Homo sapiens: one gene and its partners. The protein of the gene in region 4 interacts with the protein of the main gene of each other region in a biochemical or structural test. Each region holds a gene or a part of one and is shown on either strand. Other genes may lie near its edges.

What was found. The genes of interacting proteins can lie anywhere in the genome.
Region 1: the proteins of TGFB1 (region 4) and COL2A1 form a complex in vitro, tested with the Homo sapiens proteins (one study listed by BioGRID).
Region 2: the proteins of TGFB1 (region 4) and FMOD form a complex in vitro, tested with the Homo sapiens proteins (one study listed by BioGRID).
Region 3: the proteins of TGFB1 (region 4) and PSG9 interact in a biophysical measurement, tested with the Homo sapiens proteins (one study listed by IntAct).

What each region holds. Positions count from the first base shown.
Region 1 is NC_000012.12:47,972,589-47,976,976, reverse strand, and holds the end of COL2A1 (collagen alpha-1(II) chain isoform 1 precursor), read left to right. Parts: intron 1-57; coding exon 58-165; intron 166-409; coding exon 410-463; intron 464-906; coding exon 907-1,014; intron 1,015-1,371; coding exon 1,372-1,660; intron 1,661-2,114; coding exon 2,115-2,302; intron 2,303-2,645; coding exon 2,646-2,888; intron 2,889-3,423; coding exon 3,424-3,570; 3' UTR 3,571-4,010; downstream 4,011-4,388. UniProt on the Homo sapiens protein: Type II collagen is specific for cartilaginous tissues. It is essential for the normal embryonic development of the skeleton, for linear growth and for the ability of cartilage to resist compressive forces.
Region 2 is NC_000001.11:203,343,735-203,348,122, reverse strand, and holds part of FMOD (fibromodulin precursor), read left to right. Parts: coding exon 1-831; intron 832-4,388. UniProt on the Homo sapiens protein: Affects the rate of fibrils formation. May have a primary role in collagen fibrillogenesis.
Region 3 is NC_000019.10:43,258,643-43,263,030, reverse strand, and holds part of PSG9 (pregnancy-specific beta-1-glycoprotein 9 isoform 1 precursor), read left to right. Parts: intron 1-892; coding exon 893-1,171; intron 1,172-3,895; coding exon 3,896-4,174; intron 4,175-4,388. UniProt on the Homo sapiens protein: Binds to the small latent transforming growth factor-beta complex, consisting of the N-terminal TGFB1 latency-associated peptide (LAP) and the mature form of TGFB1, thereby leading to the activation of TGFB1.
Region 4 is NC_000019.10:41,343,128-41,348,405, forward strand, and holds part of TGFB1 (transforming growth factor beta-1 proprotein preproprotein), read right to left. Parts: coding exon 5,168-5,278; intron 1,738-5,167; coding exon 1,620-1,737; intron 1-1,619. UniProt on the Homo sapiens protein: Transforming growth factor beta-1 proprotein: Precursor of the Latency-associated peptide (LAP) and Transforming growth factor beta-1 (TGF-beta-1) chains, which constitute the regulatory and active subunit of TGF-beta-1, respectively.

The DNA of each region.
Region 1 (4,388 bases), on a different chromosome or scaffold from region 4:
GAGGGGGCTCCTGTCCTGGCCCTGACCTGACTCAATCGGTGTCTGTCTTGTTCCCAGGGTCCTCAAGGCCCCAGAGGTGACAAAGGAGAGGCTGGAGAGCCTGGCGAGAGAGGCCTGAAGGGACACCGTGGCTTCACTGGTCTGCAGGGTCTGCCCGGCCCTCCTGTGAGTGTCACTGCCTGCGTGGGACTTCCCGAGGCCTCCTGCCACACAGAGCCCACTTGAGCTCCCTGTGCTGCCAGGACAGCTTGGGATCACCCTAAGCAGTTTCTAGGATTTCCTCAGGGCTGGAGGGAGGAGGAAGTGGAAAGGGAATGGGGCTGGGACATAAAGCTGTTCCCCCAGCTCCCAGAATATAGATAGATATGTCTGTGCTGACCGTGGCCTTTTGCCTCTTCCTTCTACACAGGGTCCTTCTGGAGACCAAGGTGCTTCTGGTCCTGCTGGTCCTTCTGGCCCTAGAGTAAGTGACATGGAGTTGGAAGATGGAGGGGGCCCTTCAGAGAGTGTGGGCCTGTGTTCCCATGGGGAGGGAAATGCTGCTGCTTCTGGGGAAGCTGTGGGCTCAGGGGTCCTCACTCAGTAATGGGGGCAGGACTGGCTCATGTGCCTATGGCCAGAAAAGCGCCTGAGGCCACAATGGCTGTAAGACAAACATGAATCAGCCTCTCGCTGTCAGACAGAACAGCATTTTACAAAGAGGAGCTTAGGAGGGTAGGCAAGCCATGGAGCTATCCTGCTGGTTCTTGGCCAAATAGAGACCAACTTAGGGTTCCATGACTGAGCATGTGAAGAACTGGGGGCGGAGTGGCTGGTGCTATCAGGACAGCCACCTACCCAGCCCCAGCGACTCCCCAGCCTTCCCTGTGGTGACCACTCTTTCCTCACGACCTCTCTCTCTTGCAGGGTCCTCCTGGCCCCGTCGGTCCCTCTGGCAAAGATGGTGCTAATGGAATCCCTGGCCCCATTGGGCCTCCTGGTCCCCGTGGACGATCAGGCGAAACCGGCCCTGCTGTAAGTGTCCTGACTCCTTCCCTGCTGTCGAGGTGTCCCTACCATCCGGGAGGCTTGAGCTCTTTTTTGCTCAGGGCCTCTTTTAGGGCATCAGCCTGCAGCTAACAGTGATGGCATCCTTTATCCTGAGGTCTCCTCAGAGGTCACAGGGCCCATGATCAGTGCTGGGAAACTGAAGAGAAGGGCTAAGGAAGAAATAGACATGGTGCTGTGGTTTCCTTGGTCCTCGCCTGCTACACCTCCGCCCCACCCATGGGGCTGGGAAGAGGGACACTCTAGTACATTCTAGCAAATGGGGATGGACATGGAGGGGCACTTTCACACAATCCTGGCTGATCTCTCTGTTTCCTGCTGCAGGGTCCTCCTGGAAATCCTGGACCCCCTGGTCCTCCAGGTCCCCCTGGCCCTGGCATCGACATGTCCGCCTTTGCTGGCTTAGGCCCGAGAGAGAAGGGCCCCGACCCCCTGCAGTACATGCGGGCCGACCAGGCAGCCGGTGGCCTGAGACAGCATGACGCCGAGGTGGATGCCACACTCAAGTCCCTCAACAACCAGATTGAGAGCATCCGCAGCCCCGAGGGCTCCCGCAAGAACCCTGCTCGCACCTGCAGAGACCTGAAACTCTGCCACCCTGAGTGGAAGAGTGGTAAGCTTGGAGAACAGGATCCCCTGCCCCGGGAAGCAGGGAGTCATCCCTTAGGCCTAGCAGCAAGGGAGGAGATGCCCCCTAGTACAGGGCAGAGCTGGGCCTGGAAGTTTCCGCCAGAGGGTTCCTCTCTTATTTCACAGCAGAGAAGCTGCAGCCCTGGCCCCTGTCCTGCCATGGCTACCTGGCCGAGGTGACCTCAGGGTGGACTCCATCCACCAGCTGGGCACTGCTTCTGCTCTCTTTGCATGTGTTCTTCCTTAGGGCTGGACTTAGCTCATGCAGATCTCCCTGCCCCTGCATCCTCCCAGGTCCCCCTCCTTTCAGGCCACATGTGAACCTCATCCCTTGTCCCTGTAGGCCTCTCTGTCTCTTTCAGTCAGGCCTGGGTCTCTCAAGCTTTTGTGTCTGTGCCTGTCTGAGCCCCCATGGGTGCTGCCTCTTCCCCCTGCAGGAGACTACTGGATTGACCCCAACCAAGGCTGCACCTTGGACGCCATGAAGGTTTTCTGCAACATGGAGACTGGCGAGACTTGCGTCTACCCCAATCCAGCAAACGTTCCCAAGAAGAACTGGTGGAGCAGCAAGAGCAAGGAGAAGAAACACATCTGGTTTGGAGAAACCATCAATGGTGGCTTCCATGTGAGTACCTGGGTGCCCTAGATGATGAGCAGAGATGGCTCCTCAAACTCTTTCTTTTCTTTCTCCCTGGAAGCTTTTAGCACCTTCCCCATATTTTCCTCCAGTTTTCTGTTGGGCTTGAGAGGAGGGAAAGAGGAGGAAAAGTATTTTTTCCCCACGTGGAGGTGGGAAAAGAGGTCCTCTGAGCTTGCTCCACTCCTGGAAGCAAAAATGTCCAACTAGCTCCCTGCTGCCCCAGTACCCTTGAGGTCCTTGAACCATGAACTCTTGGCAGCCCCTACAGCCCCTGGTCCCATTGAATGCCAGCTCCCAGGCCTCACACTGCCGCTCTCTGCCCCAACAGTTCAGCTATGGAGATGACAATCTGGCTCCCAACACTGCCAACGTCCAGATGACCTTCCTACGCCTGCTGTCCACGGAAGGCTCCCAGAACATCACCTACCACTGCAAGAACAGCATTGCCTATCTGGACGAAGCAGCTGGCAACCTCAAGAAGGCCCTGCTCATCCAGGGCTCCAATGACGTGGAGATCCGGGCAGAGGGCAATAGCAGGTTCACGTACACTGCCCTGAAGGATGGCTGCACGGTGAGTGGGGCTGCCAGAGAGAAGAGCTGCCTGTGCCCAAACCGCCTGGAGCAGGGCTGAGGGTTGGCCCGCGGCAGCTGTCAGGTCCTAAAGTGACAGGATCATCAGAGGCATGAGTTTGAGGGTCATGTAGAGAAGATAGGCTGAGTGACAGGTGAGAGAGAGGCACATATCATTCCATCTTCTCCATTCCCCTGGCTCAGGGGAACAAAACCCTACCTGGAACCCAGTGACTACTGTAGAAGTGTTCTCGCAATGTGTACAGGGTGAAGAAGCGGTCACAGGTTGGGAGCTCACTGTGGGGAGTGGGGAAGGAGGGGAAGGGCAGGGTGGAGAAGGGCCCTGCCGCTAAGGATAGGAGTTGAAGTGGAGAGGCCTTTGGCAAGCCAAGAAGAGGTCTCAGGAGCCCCCTCAGTGTGGTTCAACCTTGTGGGCTCTGATGCTCGCCAGTTTGTTCAGTTTTGGGCTTCTGGGCAGCTGGAACTGGGTAGCAAGGCATCTACTGAACAGAGCCTCCTCCTTTTTTCTCCCCTAGAAACATACCGGTAAGTGGGGCAAGACTGTTATCGAGTACCGGTCACAGAAGACCTCACGCCTCCCCATCATTGACATTGCACCCATGGACATAGGAGGGCCCGAGCAGGAATTCGGTGTGGACATAGGGCCGGTCTGCTTCTTGTAAAAACCTGAACCCAGAAACAACACAATCCGTTGCAAACCCAAAGGACCCAAGTACTTTCCAATCTCAGTCACTCTAGGACTCTGCACTGAATGGCTGACCTGACCTGATGTCCATTCATCCCACCCTCTCACAGTTCGGACTTTTCTCCCCTCTCTTTCTAAGAGACCTGAACTGGGCAGACTGCAAAATAAAATCTCGGTGTTCTATTTATTTATTGTCTTCCTGTAAGACCTTCGGGTCAAGGCAGAGGCAGGAAACTAACTGGTGTGAGTCAAATGCCCCCTGAGTGACTGCCCCCAGCCCAGGCCAGAAGACCTCCCTTCAGGTGCCGGGCGCAGGAACTGTGTGTGTCCTACACAATGGTGCTATTCTGTGTCAAACACCTCTGTATTTTTTAAAACATCAATTGATATTAAAAATGAAAAGATTATTGGAAAGTACATATTGACTTGTGGTTTGTTCTTTAGTTTGTTTTCCATTAATCCTCCGTTCTGTAGGCATGCCCAAATAGCAGTCCTAAGGACTTCTTCTGTTGATTTTTCAACCGAGAGTAAGGACACTGAAGCCACACCGCCAGGGTTAGCAGCCTCACACAAACATGAACTTGCCTCTCTGGTAAACCTTGGCACTATGTGGAACCCACTGTTGAACAGGACCAGAAACCAAAACTTGAGAAGGGAGGTATGCTAGAGGGAGGGCATTGCTCTTGAAGGTAAACACTGAACACAGCTCTATGACACCTTAGTGCCCTGCCAGCTTACGGTGTAAGACCACATGTGGGCTGCATCCTGCTGGATCGGAGACGTGGGAGATACTCC
Region 2 (4,388 bases), on a different chromosome or scaffold from region 4:
ACGAGCCTTACCCCTATGGGGTGGATGAAGGGCCAGCCTACACCTACGGCTCTCCATCCCCTCCAGATCCCCGCGACTGCCCCCAGGAGTGCGACTGCCCACCCAACTTCCCCACGGCCATGTACTGTGACAATCGCAACCTCAAGTACCTGCCCTTCGTTCCCTCCCGCATGAAGTATGTGTACTTCCAGAACAACCAGATCACCTCCATCCAGGAAGGCGTCTTTGACAATGCCACAGGGCTGCTCTGGATTGCTCTCCACGGCAACCAGATCACCAGTGATAAGGTGGGCAGGAAGGTCTTCTCCAAGCTGAGGCACCTGGAGAGGCTGTACCTGGACCACAACAACCTGACCCGGATGCCCGGTCCCCTGCCTCGATCCCTGAGAGAGCTCCATCTCGACCACAACCAGATCTCACGGGTCCCCAACAATGCTCTGGAGGGGCTGGAGAACCTCACGGCCTTGTACCTCCAACACAATGAGATCCAGGAAGTGGGCAGTTCCATGAGGGGCCTCCGGTCACTGATCTTGCTGGACCTGAGTTATAACCACCTTCGGAAGGTGCCTGATGGGCTGCCCTCAGCTCTTGAGCAGCTGTACATGGAGCACAACAATGTCTACACCGTCCCCGATAGCTACTTCCGGGGGGCGCCCAAGCTGCTGTATGTGCGGCTGTCCCACAACAGTCTAACCAACAATGGCCTGGCCTCCAACACCTTCAATTCCAGCAGCCTCCTTGAGCTAGACCTCTCCTACAACCAGCTGCAGAAGATCCCCCCAGTCAACACCAACCTGGAGAACCTCTACCTCCAAGGCAATAGGATCAATGGTGAGACCTTGGCAAAGGGAGGCGGGGACTGGCTGTCTATTTCACTTGAAAGACACTATTCTGAGTGCTAGTGGCAAAACAAAAGAAATAGAAATAGGGGAACCAGACAGCACAAATGAAGCAACCTGACAACCAAGCCATACCCCTGTACAAAAGAGAATACACTTATACTAAATAGCAGTGCTAAGACAATTCAGTGGGGAGTGGGTTGGTACAGAAGAAGACTTTCCAGGAGAGGTAAGTTTCATTCCAGGTCTTGAGAGATAAGTGGGCATGGGTTGGGGGTATGCAGGATGGAGACATTCTGGGACAGAGGCTTGCCACAAAGGAGCCAGTCATTTTCACAGGTCACCTGTCGATGTAGGGGACAGCTGGGAAATGTCACGTGTCTGAGATGAAGGGGTCATGTGTCAGGGAGCAGTAAGAGATGAGTTCGGAGAAGTTTAGGAGGGAATACTTCAAAGGGAGGGAGATTTAAGTTTAGCTTCTAAAGTCTGTTTCAGGAGAATGGTGGGTTGAAGCCCTGCACTTACTCACTGTCCCAGAAGAGGATGAGCTCTCTTTTTCCACTTGAACTACTCTTGCGTCTACAGCCTGGTCTTGTGTTTTGGTGTTTATTCTCAGAGCTGAATGCGGCACTTGTTCTGGTCAGTTCTTCCTGGAGTACAAGGACCCCCTGGTGGCAGGGCAGATATCCTTCCTAGGGTAACATGAGCCTGACTACCACCAAGCCTAGGACACTGGGCTTCCTGTTTCATAAGCACTTCCTTGCAATGCCCAAAGGAAAAAAAAAAAGGCTGCCTCCCTGACTCTAAGAAATATTCATTTCAGATGGAATTATCTAGCTGATTTTCAGCTCCCTTTAGTCTTAGGATCTAGTATTCAGAACATGCTTACATTACCCCAGGGCTTCTGATGTCTTAATCCCAGCTGGAAGGTACTGAGCCAGCACTTGACCTCCCTTCCTGTCAGCAAAGTCCTCTTCCATCTGGAGAAGGGAGGACTCATTAACGACCACTGGCAAAGGGCTTTGAAGTGGAGCCTGCTGAGATAGAACCGCACCATCAAAGCGCTGAGAAGAACAGAGTCGTCACCCTCTCCCTCTCATTCCTTTCTCCCCTGTGCTCAGGGAACAGATCAGTCATTGAGCAAGATGTTAACAAGCTGGGCAGCCCTCTGAGTGAGAGAGGCACCAGCCCCAGAGGGCAATTTGGGAGTTGACAGTCGGGTGGGCAAGGCAAAGAGGCATCTGTCTGGCACCTTTAGTTTGAAGTGCCTGACACCATCATGTACAGCCTAAACTCTTTTTTATTAAAATCTCTCTTTCTTTGGGGTCTTTTTATTCCCAAGGTGGGGATTGAGGGGTCCTCTAAGACGTCTTTTTTTTTTTTTTTGAGACAGAGTCTCGCTCTGTCACCCAGGCCGGAGTGCAGTGGCATGATCTCAGCTCACTGCAAACTCCGCCTCCTGGGTTCACGCCATTCTCCTGCCTCAGCCTCTTGAGTAGCTGCGACTACAGGCGCCTGCCACCACGCTCGGCCAACTTTTTATATTTTTAGTAGAGACGGGGTTTCACCGTGTTAGCCAGGACGGTCTTGATCTCCTGACCTCGTGATCTGCCTGCCTCGGCCTCCCAAAGTGCTGGGATTACAGGCATGAGCCACCGCGCCCAGCCAAGACATCTTGAAGATGTTGCAAGCTGCAGACGTTTGACATTTCCTTGTGGCTGTCTATCATCACACCAGCAGTTACCACTACTTACCTGCCACACACTCTGAATCCAGGAGCAGTCACATCAGAAATGTCACACGTATGCTGTGCTTCATCCAAGTTTGACCCTGAAACTGTGACAGCAAAGAACAGCTGTCATGGGAAAGAATCTATTAGCACCTACCCATACAATCAGAGAAAGTTGGGATGGAAAAGGCTTCATCACAACCTTTTATCATCGTTCTGCCTTCATGCAGAACCACATCTGCCACTCAAATGGGAGGTGGACCACCTCTTCCAGACGCTTGTCAGAAAATAAAATTAGTGCAGTTTCCTAAGGTCCCGCAAACAAATTCTCTGTTCAAACAACCCCCAAATTTTCGGTGTCTACTCCCAAATCAATTCTTGTGCAATTTAAGTCCAAGCCCCGTGACTAGGTATCACTTAGTCTCTCTCAGCCTTCTTTTTAGACAAAATAATGCTTTATTTTCCTTAAAGTAGTGAATTAATATATGTAAAGTGCTTTGTCTAGGGCCTGGCATAGAATTTAAAAACCAATGATAGCTATTATTATTAGCCTTTCTTCTCATTGCCACTTTAAAGTTGACAGGCAGTTTTTGTTGTTGTTTTGGGGAAAAAGAGACACAGAGAAGGTAAAGCCATCTCTCAAAGTCCTCCAGATGATGTAGATTAGAATCCTGACCTAAAGGACCTAGAGCCAGGCATCTCCGACTGAGAATGGTGAGGAATATCTCTCTGATGCAGACCACTAGCAGGAAAACAGCTCCCCAAGCTCAGCCCCCTCTCCTACAGCAAACGTGAGGGACATCTCCCTGCAAACCAGTCAGGGACTTGGGGATGGGGGGTGTTGGAGGTGGGATTGAAACAAGCTTCTGAGAGAGGAGCTTAAAGAAGAACAGGAGCTCAGGGGCGCACAGGGGAATCAGATGTGGTCCTCTCCTCGCCACTTCCCTCTTCCATCAGTATCTCCCTCAGTTTTTCCAGCCTGGCAAGAACACAGCTCAGAATGTTATTCAGAAGCTTTGGGATTCAGTGGAGCAGGGCGGGTACACCAGTAGGAATTTGGAAAGACTTATGTCAGTATTTAATTTGGGCTAGAAAAATGTCCTCCAGTGCCTCCACGCAGAAGCCTGTCCTATTCATGGGCTTGGGGAAGACGGGGGGGTGCTCACAGTACCCAGTATGTGGCTAGAGTCCATATACACTGTGTGTCTAGCTCCCCACAGGTATGTCCCACATTTACCTATCCACAGCTGGGATCTGGAATTTTAGCAGGCAGTCTGAGGGCTCCAGGCTGGGAAAGAATCTATCACGGAGCCTGCAGCTCCATCCTAAGTAGGGCTGGAAATGATACTTAAGCTGAGCCACTTTGCTTCTTCTCCTCACCCCACTGCTCTGCTTGTACACAGATAACATAGACCCAGCCCCGGTCTAGGCTCTGCCCCCAACCTGCTCACTCAGAGGCCACTTAATCTAGTCCTTGGGACCAGAAAGGAAACATCCAAAAGTATTCCAGAAATTCTACCCCACCAGGAGTGTTTTCCAAAGACGAGTATTTCCCAGTTTCCGCTACTTTTCTCAGTGTCTAATTTTCTTTAGGCCTAGATTTTCTGTGTTATGCCTGCAATACAAGTTAATTTGCTGCAACCTCACCTCATCTTATCTTGGTCAGTGCTTAACAGAGACTGAAAACCATTGAAAATGCTAATTTAAAAACACTTTTTTCATCAGCCTCTTTAAGCTCTCCATGCTGTCTTTCTTGGAACTGTCTTCTTCATACCTATAACCTCTCCCAAGGGGAGCCCTCATGGTCACACCTAAGAATA
Region 3 (4,388 bases), 1.9 Mb from region 4:
ACGCATATGGTCCTTGAGGGCCAGACTTCCATCATCTGTTCATGTTCACCCTTTCCACCAGTCAGTTCTGCATTTGCAAACATCCACATGTATTTCTAGAAAGATCCACATGGTCCTCACCTGCCCTCTACAGGGGGAAGGGAGCATCATGGACCCAGAACAGGGAACATGGTCTTGGTCGAAAGCTATCAGCTACTGCCTGGCCCCTTCACTCTTTGTAGGTCATTCCTTGGACTCTGCTCTATCGTTAGAGGTCACTGGCTCAAGTCAGTCACTATGAGACACCTGGGAAAACTGCAAACTGCCCCACCTTGTGGCTCCACTGCCTGATGTCTTAACTGACCTCCCGGCTTGACTCTGGTCTCCCCTGTGTTATTTCTGCTGAAGTACCCAGTCCCAGACCAGGCTTTCCAATACCCAAAGGGTTTAAGGACAATGGGAAGTTCCATCACCCATCTCTAGGATGTCCTTGGCAAGGGAAGCTGCAGAGAAAACATACCTCAGGGGGCAAAGTAAGACTGAAACTAAGAGGATTCCAGCACTGCATGCTCCAAGTGAGGACCACAAGTTGGGCCAGTCAGGCAGTTGGAGACGGAGGGACTCAAAGAGGCATCAGGGGCTGTGACTGCTGGTCCTGTGTCTTTCCATGACCCAATGCTGCTGCTCAATTCACACTTAAGAAAGTCTGTGCTTCTCCCACATAAAGCAGGCAGCCTCACAATCTCTGAGCTCTCAGATTGCCATGCATCTGTCTTGTAACACACACACCTGCCATGGGCTTTTAAGGACTGGGTTGGGCTGAGAGGTGGGAAATGCCAACTCTGACTGAAAAATGCCTTTGGAGGAATCAAAGGTGCCACACAGGGCAATCTTCTCTCTGTTTTCTGCACAGTGGAGACTCCCAAGCCCTACATCTCCAGCAGCAACTTAAACCCCAGGGAGGCCATGGAGGCTGTGCGCTTAATCTGTGATCCTGAGACTCTGGACGCAAGCTACCTATGGTGGATGAATGGTCAGAGCCTCCCTGTGACTCACAGGTTGCAGCTGTCCAAAACCAACAGGACCCTCTATCTATTTGGTGTCACAAAGTATATTGCAGGACCCTATGAATGTGAAATACGGAACCCAGTGAGTGCCAGTCGCAGTGACCCAGTCACCCTGAATCTCCTCCGTGAGTATCTTCTGTTCCTCTGTGAGCCAGGCTGCCATCCCAAATACACATGGCCAGAGGCCAGGCCTCTCAGTCCCTCTCAGGTCCAAGTACAGAGACCTTTACCCCTAGACATCAAAGCTGGCCATGACTTTCTGCCCCAAGCAAACCAGAGTAGGCCTAGGCTTGATCAACAATGGGAGAAAAGAGGCTGCTGTGTCATGGGAGACTCTGGGTCCACAGCTTGTGATGGGAGAAACAGGTGAATGTCTCAGGCTCCAGATCAGTGAACACAGCAGGGATTTGGCTGGGACTTCAGTGTTGCGACTTGGCTCACAGGGTCACTGTGGCCCTTCCACAGACCAGGATTTTCCCTTCCCTCTGACAATATCGCTTGTGACATTATTCTCTTTGCTCCACATGGCCTGGATGCACCCACCATTTCTTCCTCATACATCTATTACCATACAGGGGAATTCCCCAATCTCTCCTGCCTCACAGACTCTCACCCACTGGCAGAGCATTCTTGGCTGATTGATGGGAAGTTCCAGCACTCAGCACAAGTGTTCTTTATCCCCCAAATCACTAAAACATATAGAGGGTCTATGTCTGTTTCATCCATAACTCAGCCACTGGTGGAACAAATCTCATAATCAAGAGGATCATAGTCCCTGGTAAGTGGGTCCCTGGAGCACTGGCACTATGTTTTCCAGTGAAGTCTATCTAGCTGTCAGGGAACAGCCACCTGCCCTCTGCAAAGGGAGAGGGAAAATAAAAAACCCTGGATAGGGAATATGTTTCTGCTCCAAAACCACCAGCTTTTGCCTGTCCCTTCACTCTTTCTAGATCATTCTTTAGACTATACACTAACAATGAACAATCTGAAAGGAAGTTAAGGAAAGGATTTCAATTCACATTAACATCAAAAGGAATAAAATATTTTGGAATAAGTTTAACCAAAAAGGTCAAATGATTATACCCTGAAAACTACAAAACATTGCTGAAAGAAATTAAAGATGATATCAATATATGGAAAGACATTTCATTTTCATGGATTGGAAGAATCAATATTGTTAGAAAGACAATACTACCCAATTGAGTTGCAGATTCAATGCAACCCCTACCAGAATCCCAGTAACATTTTTTGCAGAATTAGAAAACTCTGTCCTAAATCTGACCTGACAGGATCTTATTAATGACTGCCACAACACAAACACTGAGAAAAAGATGCAACCAGAAAAGGTGGAAAGTTCTGATGACAAAGAAAATAGCAATCAGCCTTTCTCACATCCCAAAGCTTTAAAAAATATATGAGTGCAGCATGGCCAGTATGGAATTGACCAAAAACTAATCATCAAGCTAGAAAAGTGGTGAGAGAAAAAAAAAGGGCAAGAATATCTTTGGCTTATCACCTCCCACTTTTGCCTACTAATCTGATGCTGAAAAGAAATGCTCACTGAAGCATTTTAGATTTTGAATCTTTCAGATTTGGGATGCTAAACCAGTAAGTATATGACAAATATTTCAGAATAAAAAAATGTCAGAAATCCAAAACACTTTTTGTCCTAAGACTTATGCATAAGAAATACTCAATCTGTGTGAACTATAGGCATCAAGCTCTACAGCAGATCTCTAGAACCTCCCCACCTTGCATAACTGAAACTGCACACCCATGAACAATTTCTGATTCTCCCCACTCCCAGCTCCTGGCAACCAGCAGTCTCTTCTCATATTCACTCTGGAATCCACTTACATGAGGTCCCTAGAGTAGTCGAACCCAGGGGATCAGAGAGTAGAATGTCCAATGAAAGAAAATATTTGCAAAACTTCTCTCCAAGTTTGTCTCATATCCATCAAACACACATGGTCCATGAGGACCAGATTTCCAGCAGTTCATTCCCACACTTTCCACCAGTCAGTTCTGCATTTGCAAATGTCCACATGTATTTCTGGAAAGATCCACATGGTCCTCCTCTGCCCTCTGCAGAAGGAGAGGAAACTTAAAGAACCCAGGACAGAGAACATGGTTCTGCTCCAAAGCCACCAGCTCTTGCCTGTCGCCTTCACTCTTTCTAGATCATTCCTTGCACTCTGCTCTATGTTTAGAGGTCACTGGTTCAAGTAAGTCATCATGAAACACCTGCAAAAAACTGCCCCACCTTGAGCCTCCACTGCCTGATGACTGAACTGACCTCCAGGCTTGACTCTGGTCTCCTCTGTGTTATTTCTGCTGAAACATCCAGTCCCAGGCCAGGCTGCTAAGTATCTTCAGGGTCTCAGGACAATGGGAAGTCCCATTATTACTCATCTCTAGAACATCCTTAGAAATGGAAGCTGCAGAGAAATCACATATAGGGGGGCAAAGTAGGATGGAATTTGGAAGGGGCCCAGCAGTTGCACATTCCAGGTAAGGAACCCAAGGTGAGCCAGCCAGTCAACTGATTAGGGAGGGACTGGGAGGGGTACCAGGGGCTGTGACTCCCACTGATGTGTCTGTCCATGACCCAACACTGCTGCTCAATTGACACTTGAGAAAGTCTGTGCTTCCCTAAGACAGAGCAGGCGGCCTCACAGTCTTTGAGCCCTTAGATCATCATGCATCTGTCTTGTGACACACGCACCAGCTATTGGCTTTCAAGGACTCGGGTGGGCTGAGAGGTGGGAGATGCCAACTCTGATTGAAGTATGCCTGTGGAGGAATCAAAGGTGCCACACAGGACAATCTTCTCTCTGTTATCCACACAGCGAAGCTGCCCATCCCCTACATCACCATCAACAACTTAAACCCCAGGGAGAATAAGGATGTCTTAGCCTTCACCTGTGAACCTAAGAGTGAGAACTACACCTACATTTGGTGGCTAAACGGTCAGAGCCTCCCCGTCAGTCCCGGGGTAAAGCGACCCATTGAAAACAGGATACTCATTCTACCCAGTGTCACGAGAAATGAAACAGGACCCTATCAATGTGAAATACGGGACCGATATGGTGGCCTCCGCAGTAACCCAGTCATCCTAAATGTCCTCTGTGAGTATCTTTTGTTCCTCTGTGGGCCAGGACACCAGCTTAAGTCCAAACGACCAGATGCCAGGCCTCTCAGTCTCTCTCCGGTCCAAGTATAGACACCTTTACTTCTAGACATCCGAGGTGGCCATGACTCCCTGCCCTGGGAAAACCTGGGTAGGCACAGCCTTAACCAAGAATATAAGGGGAGTGGATGCTCTTGTCATGGGAGACTTGG
Region 4 (5,278 bases):
CTTTTTCTTTTCTTTTTTTTTTTTGAGACGGAGTTTCACTGTTGTTGCCCAGGCTGGAGTGCAATGGCACGATCTTGGCTCACTGAAACCTCCACCTCCTGGGTTCAAGCAATTCTCCTGCCTCAGCCTCCCGAGTAGCTGGGATTACAGGCATGCATCACCACGCCGAGCTAATTATGTATTTTTAGTAGAGACGGGGTTTCTCCATGTTGGTCAGGCTGGTCTCGAACTCCCGATCTCAGGTGATCCACCCACCTCGGCCTCTCAAAGTGCTGGGATTACAGGCGTGAGCCACCATGCCAGGCCCCCTAATCCCTTTTTTTTCATGTGGCCAAACTACTATTTATCCTGTGAGTCTCCACACAATCACCCTCACCCAGCAAGCCCTCCTAGACTCCCCAGATGGGTCCAGGTGCCTTCTCTGGGCTCCCAACAGCACTTAGGGCGTTCCCCCATCCTGCATGCCTCCCTGTCCCAGCCTTGTCCTCCCTGCTGGTGCCTCCCCATCCCATTCTTGATCATTCTAGGTCATTCCTGCCTGGTGGGGCCTTGACAAGATCTCTTAGGTGTCCAGAAGTGACTGTGGGCCCCATGAGGGCAGAACTGAGGGCTGTCTTGGTTATCACTATGTCCCCCACACCACCCAGCACATGGCCAGGCACACAGCAGGAACCTGTGGGCAATTATTGAATAAAAGCATAAATGAGAGGGAGGTGAGGGAGAGAGATAGGGGCACCATGGGCCCTGCCAGAAACCAGACAGAGACAATCATCTCCTGGACAGATCAAATGAGTTAGTTAGGCTCTCCCTGGCCTCCAGGCCTTTGCACAGGCTGTTCCCTTTGCCTGGAATCTTTTTTTTTTTTTTTTTTTTGAGATGGGATCTCACTCTTTCATGTAGGCTGGATTGCAGTAGTGTGATTATGACTCACTGCAGCCTCGACCTCCCAGGCTCAGGTGATTCTCCCACCTCAGTCTCCCAAGCAGCTGGAACTACAGGCACGTAACAGCATGCATGGCTAATTTTTGTATTTTTGTGTAGAGACCGGGTTTCGCCATGTTGCCCAGGCTGCTCTCAAAACTCCTGAGCTCCAGTGATCCATCCTCCTTGGCCTTCAAAAGTGCTGGGATTATAGGCATAAGCCACCATGCCCAGCCCCAGAATACTCTTACACCTCTCCTTTTCCTGACCATTCTACTCATCCCTTCAACATCAGCTATGGTGCCCCTCCTCCAGGAAGCCCTCCCTGATTCTGGGCTGGGTCAGGTACCTCCTTTGGGCTCCCCATCCCAGTCCCACCCACTCTGGGTCATCACTGCCTTACAGGTCTGTTCCCCAGCTACCTAGCCAATGGACTATATGAGCTCTGTGAGGGCAAGGATGGGGCTGTTTTGGTCATTGCTGTGTCCTTGGCATCACCCATCACAGGGCAGGGCAGAGAGGTGCTCAGGAAACAGATTAGCCAATCACTCAGGTTTCCATGCCACAGAGGGGAGCCAGGTCTCAGCACTTTCACACCAGTATGGGGCGGAGAGGGGTCCTAGGCAAAGTGACCCCAGGACAAACAATGGGGTGGACCCCAGGGAGAAACAGGGGTGGGACACACAAGTAATCCTCACCTCCACGGCTCAACCACTGCCGCACAACTCCGGTGACATCAAAAGATAACCACTCTGGCGAGTCGCTGGGTGCCAGCAGCCGGTTGCTGAGGTATCGCCAGGAATTGTTGCTGTATTTCTAGAGGATGATGAAGGCAGGAGAGAGACAGTGGGTAGATGGTGTCACGACCCCACATACACTAACTGAATCCTTCACCCCATCTGCTTCCCCAAACAGGCTTCCAGAAAGTTCCCAGGCACTACCCTCTCAGACAGCCACCTGTGTGGTCCTGTGGCACCCATCCTCCCCAACAGTACCCATGAGAGGAGGGGTGGAGAAAAAGCTCAGGCTGCGGTCAAGTCACCTTCACACAGCTCAGCCGAAGGTGTTTTCTTGCCTTCTCGAGGCCTGTTTCCTCATTGGTGAAATGCTAAGCCCCACTCAGCGTGGACAGCCCACAATGCTAAAATTCTGCTGCTAACATTCTGGGCCGGGCGCAGTGGCTCACGCCTGTAATCCCAGCACTTTGGGAGCCCAAGGTGGGTGGATCACTTGAGGTCAGGAGTTCAAGACCAGCCTGGCCAACATAGTGAAACCCCATCTCTACTAAAAATACAAAAATTAGCCAGGCATGGTGGCACACGCCTGTAGTCGCCACTATTTGGGAGGCTGAGGCAGGAGAATTGCTTGAGCCCGGGAGACACAGACTGCAGTGAGCCAAGATCACGCCACTGCACTCCAGCCTGGGCGACAGGACGAGACTTCGTCTCAAAATAATAATAATAAATAAAATAAAATTCTGCTGCAAACATTCTGGGGTTTACTGAGCATACGGTTCTGCAAATTTGACACCCTGAATTCTCAGTAACTTAGAAGTCATTTCTAATGATTCCGGCTGGGCACGGTGGCTCACGCCTGTTATCCCAGCACTTTGGGAGGCCAAGGCGGGTGGATCTCCTGAGGTCAGGAGTTCAAGACCAGCCTGGCCAACAAAGTGAAACCTCGTCTCTACTAAAAATACAAAAATTAGCCAGGCGTGGTGGCACACGCCTGTAATCCCAGCTACTCAGGAGGCTGAGGCAGGAGAATCACTTGAACCCAAGACACAGAGGTTGCAGTGAGCCGAGATTGCACCACTGCACTCTAGCCAGGGTGACAGAGTGAGACTCTGTCTCAAAAAAAAAAAAAGTCATTTTGTGATTCAAATGTTTGATAATATCCCAAGATTTCCACTTCTAGAGCCTGAGAAGCTTTAGAAGACTAATGTTCTATAAACCCAAGAGTCTGCCATGCCGCACCTAGATGCTGCAGGTACCCAACATCTGTGTAGAATAATTTTCTGGGCCAGGCACAGTCGCTCACGCTTGTAATCCCAGCACTTTGGGAGGCCGAGGAGGGTGGATCACCAGAGGTCAGAAGTTCGAGACCAGCCTGACCAATATGGAGAAACACCGTCTCTACTAAAAATACAAAATTAGCTAGGTGTGGTGGTGCATGCCTGTAATCCCAGCTGCTCGGGTGGCTGAGGCAGGAGAATCGCTTGAACCCAGGAAGCAAAGGTTGTGGTGAGCCAAGATGGTGCCATTGCACTCCAGCCTGGGCAACAGGAGCAAAACTCCATCACACACACACACAAAAAAAAGAAGAATTTTCTGGGGCTGGATAGTCCACTCCAGGGACTGCAGAATAAAGCTGAATTCCCCAGACTCCAAGAAGCCAAGCTAACATAGGACAAAGTTCTCTCACTGTGAAAGTCTGAAATCTACCATCCTATGAGTTAACATTCCCTCTGATATGGATTCTAGCTCATAGAAACTGCTAGAGCCTCCAGCCCTTCCAGATGCCCCAGTCCTCTTGGAAGCTCCCTATCTTCTAGAGCAGTGCTGTCCTAAAGAACTTTCTGGAAATGTGCTTTATCTGCAACATCCAAAATAGTAGCTGCTAACCACATGTGACTATAGAGTACTAGAAATATGGCCAGTGAGAATGAGGATTTCTTTTTCATTTTTATTTTTTTGAGACAGAGTCTCGCTCTGTTGCCCAGGCTGGAGTGCAGTGGTATGATCTCCGCTCACTGCAGTCTCCACCTCCTGGGGTCAAGCGATTCTCCCACCTCAGCCTCCCAAGTAGCTGGGATTACAGGTGCCTGCCACCACACCTGGCTAATTTTTGTATTTTTAGTAGAGATGGAGTTTCGTCATGTTGGCCAGGCTGGTCTTGAACTCCTGACCTCAAGTGATCCACCCACCCTGGCCTCCCAAAGTGCTGGGATTGCAGGCATGAGCCACCACGCCTGGCCTATATATATATATTTTTGAGACGGTCTCGCTCCATCACCCAGGCTGGAATGCAGTGGTGCAATCACAGTTCACTACAGCCTCGACCTCCTGGGCTCAATCAATCCTCCCACCTCAGACTACTGAGTAGCTGGGACTAGAGGCACGCATCACCATAACAGGCTAATTTTAGTATTTTTTGTAGAGACGAAGTTTCAACATGTTGCCCAGACTGGTCTCGGACTCCTGGGCTCAAGCAATCTGCCTGCCTCGGCTTCCCAAAGTTCTGGGATTAGAGGTGTGAGCCACTATGCCTGGCCCTAAATTTTTAATTTAATTTTAAACAATTTAAATTTTAATCAAGCTAAATGTGACTAGTGGCTGTCATATTGGACAGAATGATTCTAGAGCCCCCAACCTTTTCAGAGATTCCAACTTTCAAGAATCCTGTGTCCTTAAAGAGTCCAACTCCTAAGATTCCAGCCTTCTAAGTGTTTAACATCCTAGGATGCAAAGAGTCTGAACATTTAAAAGTGCTCTAGGTTCCGGGTGCAGTGGCTCACACCTGTAATCCCAGCACTCTGGGAGGCTCAGGTAGGAGAATCACTTGAGGGCAGGAGTTTGAGACAAGCCTGGCCAACATGATAAAACTCTGTCTCTACTAAAAATACAAAAATTAGCCCAGCGTGTTGGCACATGCCTGTAATCCCAGCTACTCGGGTGGCTGAGGCAGGAGAATCACTTGAACCCAGGAGGCGGAGGTTGCAGTGAGCCGAGATCACCCCATTGTACTCCAGCCTGGGCGACAGAGCAAGACTCCATCTCAAAAAAAAAAAAAAAAAAAAAAGAGGCCAGGCGCAGTGGCTCACGCCTGTAATCTGAGCACTTTGGGAGACCGAGGCAGGTGGATCACGAGGTCAGGAGATCGAGACCATCCTGGCCAACATGGTAAAACCCCATCTCTACCAAAAATACAAAAATTAGCTGGGCGTGGTGGCGCACACCTGTAATCCCAGCTACTTGGGAGGCTGAGGCAGGAGAATCACTGGAACCCAGGAGGCGGAGATTGCAGTGAGCTGAGGTCATACCACTGCACTCCAGCTTGGCAACAGAGTGAGACACTGTCTCAAAAAAAAAAAAAAAGCGTTCTAGGATTGTATGGTTTGTGTTCTTCTATCCTTCAGGGACCATCTAGGTGGACCTTGTAACCAGCCGACCCACAGCCACCCCCTTGGTCACAGCTCACCCTCTCCAGCCCATGCCCTGACCTTCCTTCTGGCTCATGTCCTCACCTGGTACAGCTCCACGTGCTGCTCCACTTTTAACTTGAGCCTCAGCAGACGCAGCTCTGCCCGGGAGAGCAACACGGGTTCAGGTACCGCTTCTCGGAGCTCTGATGTGTT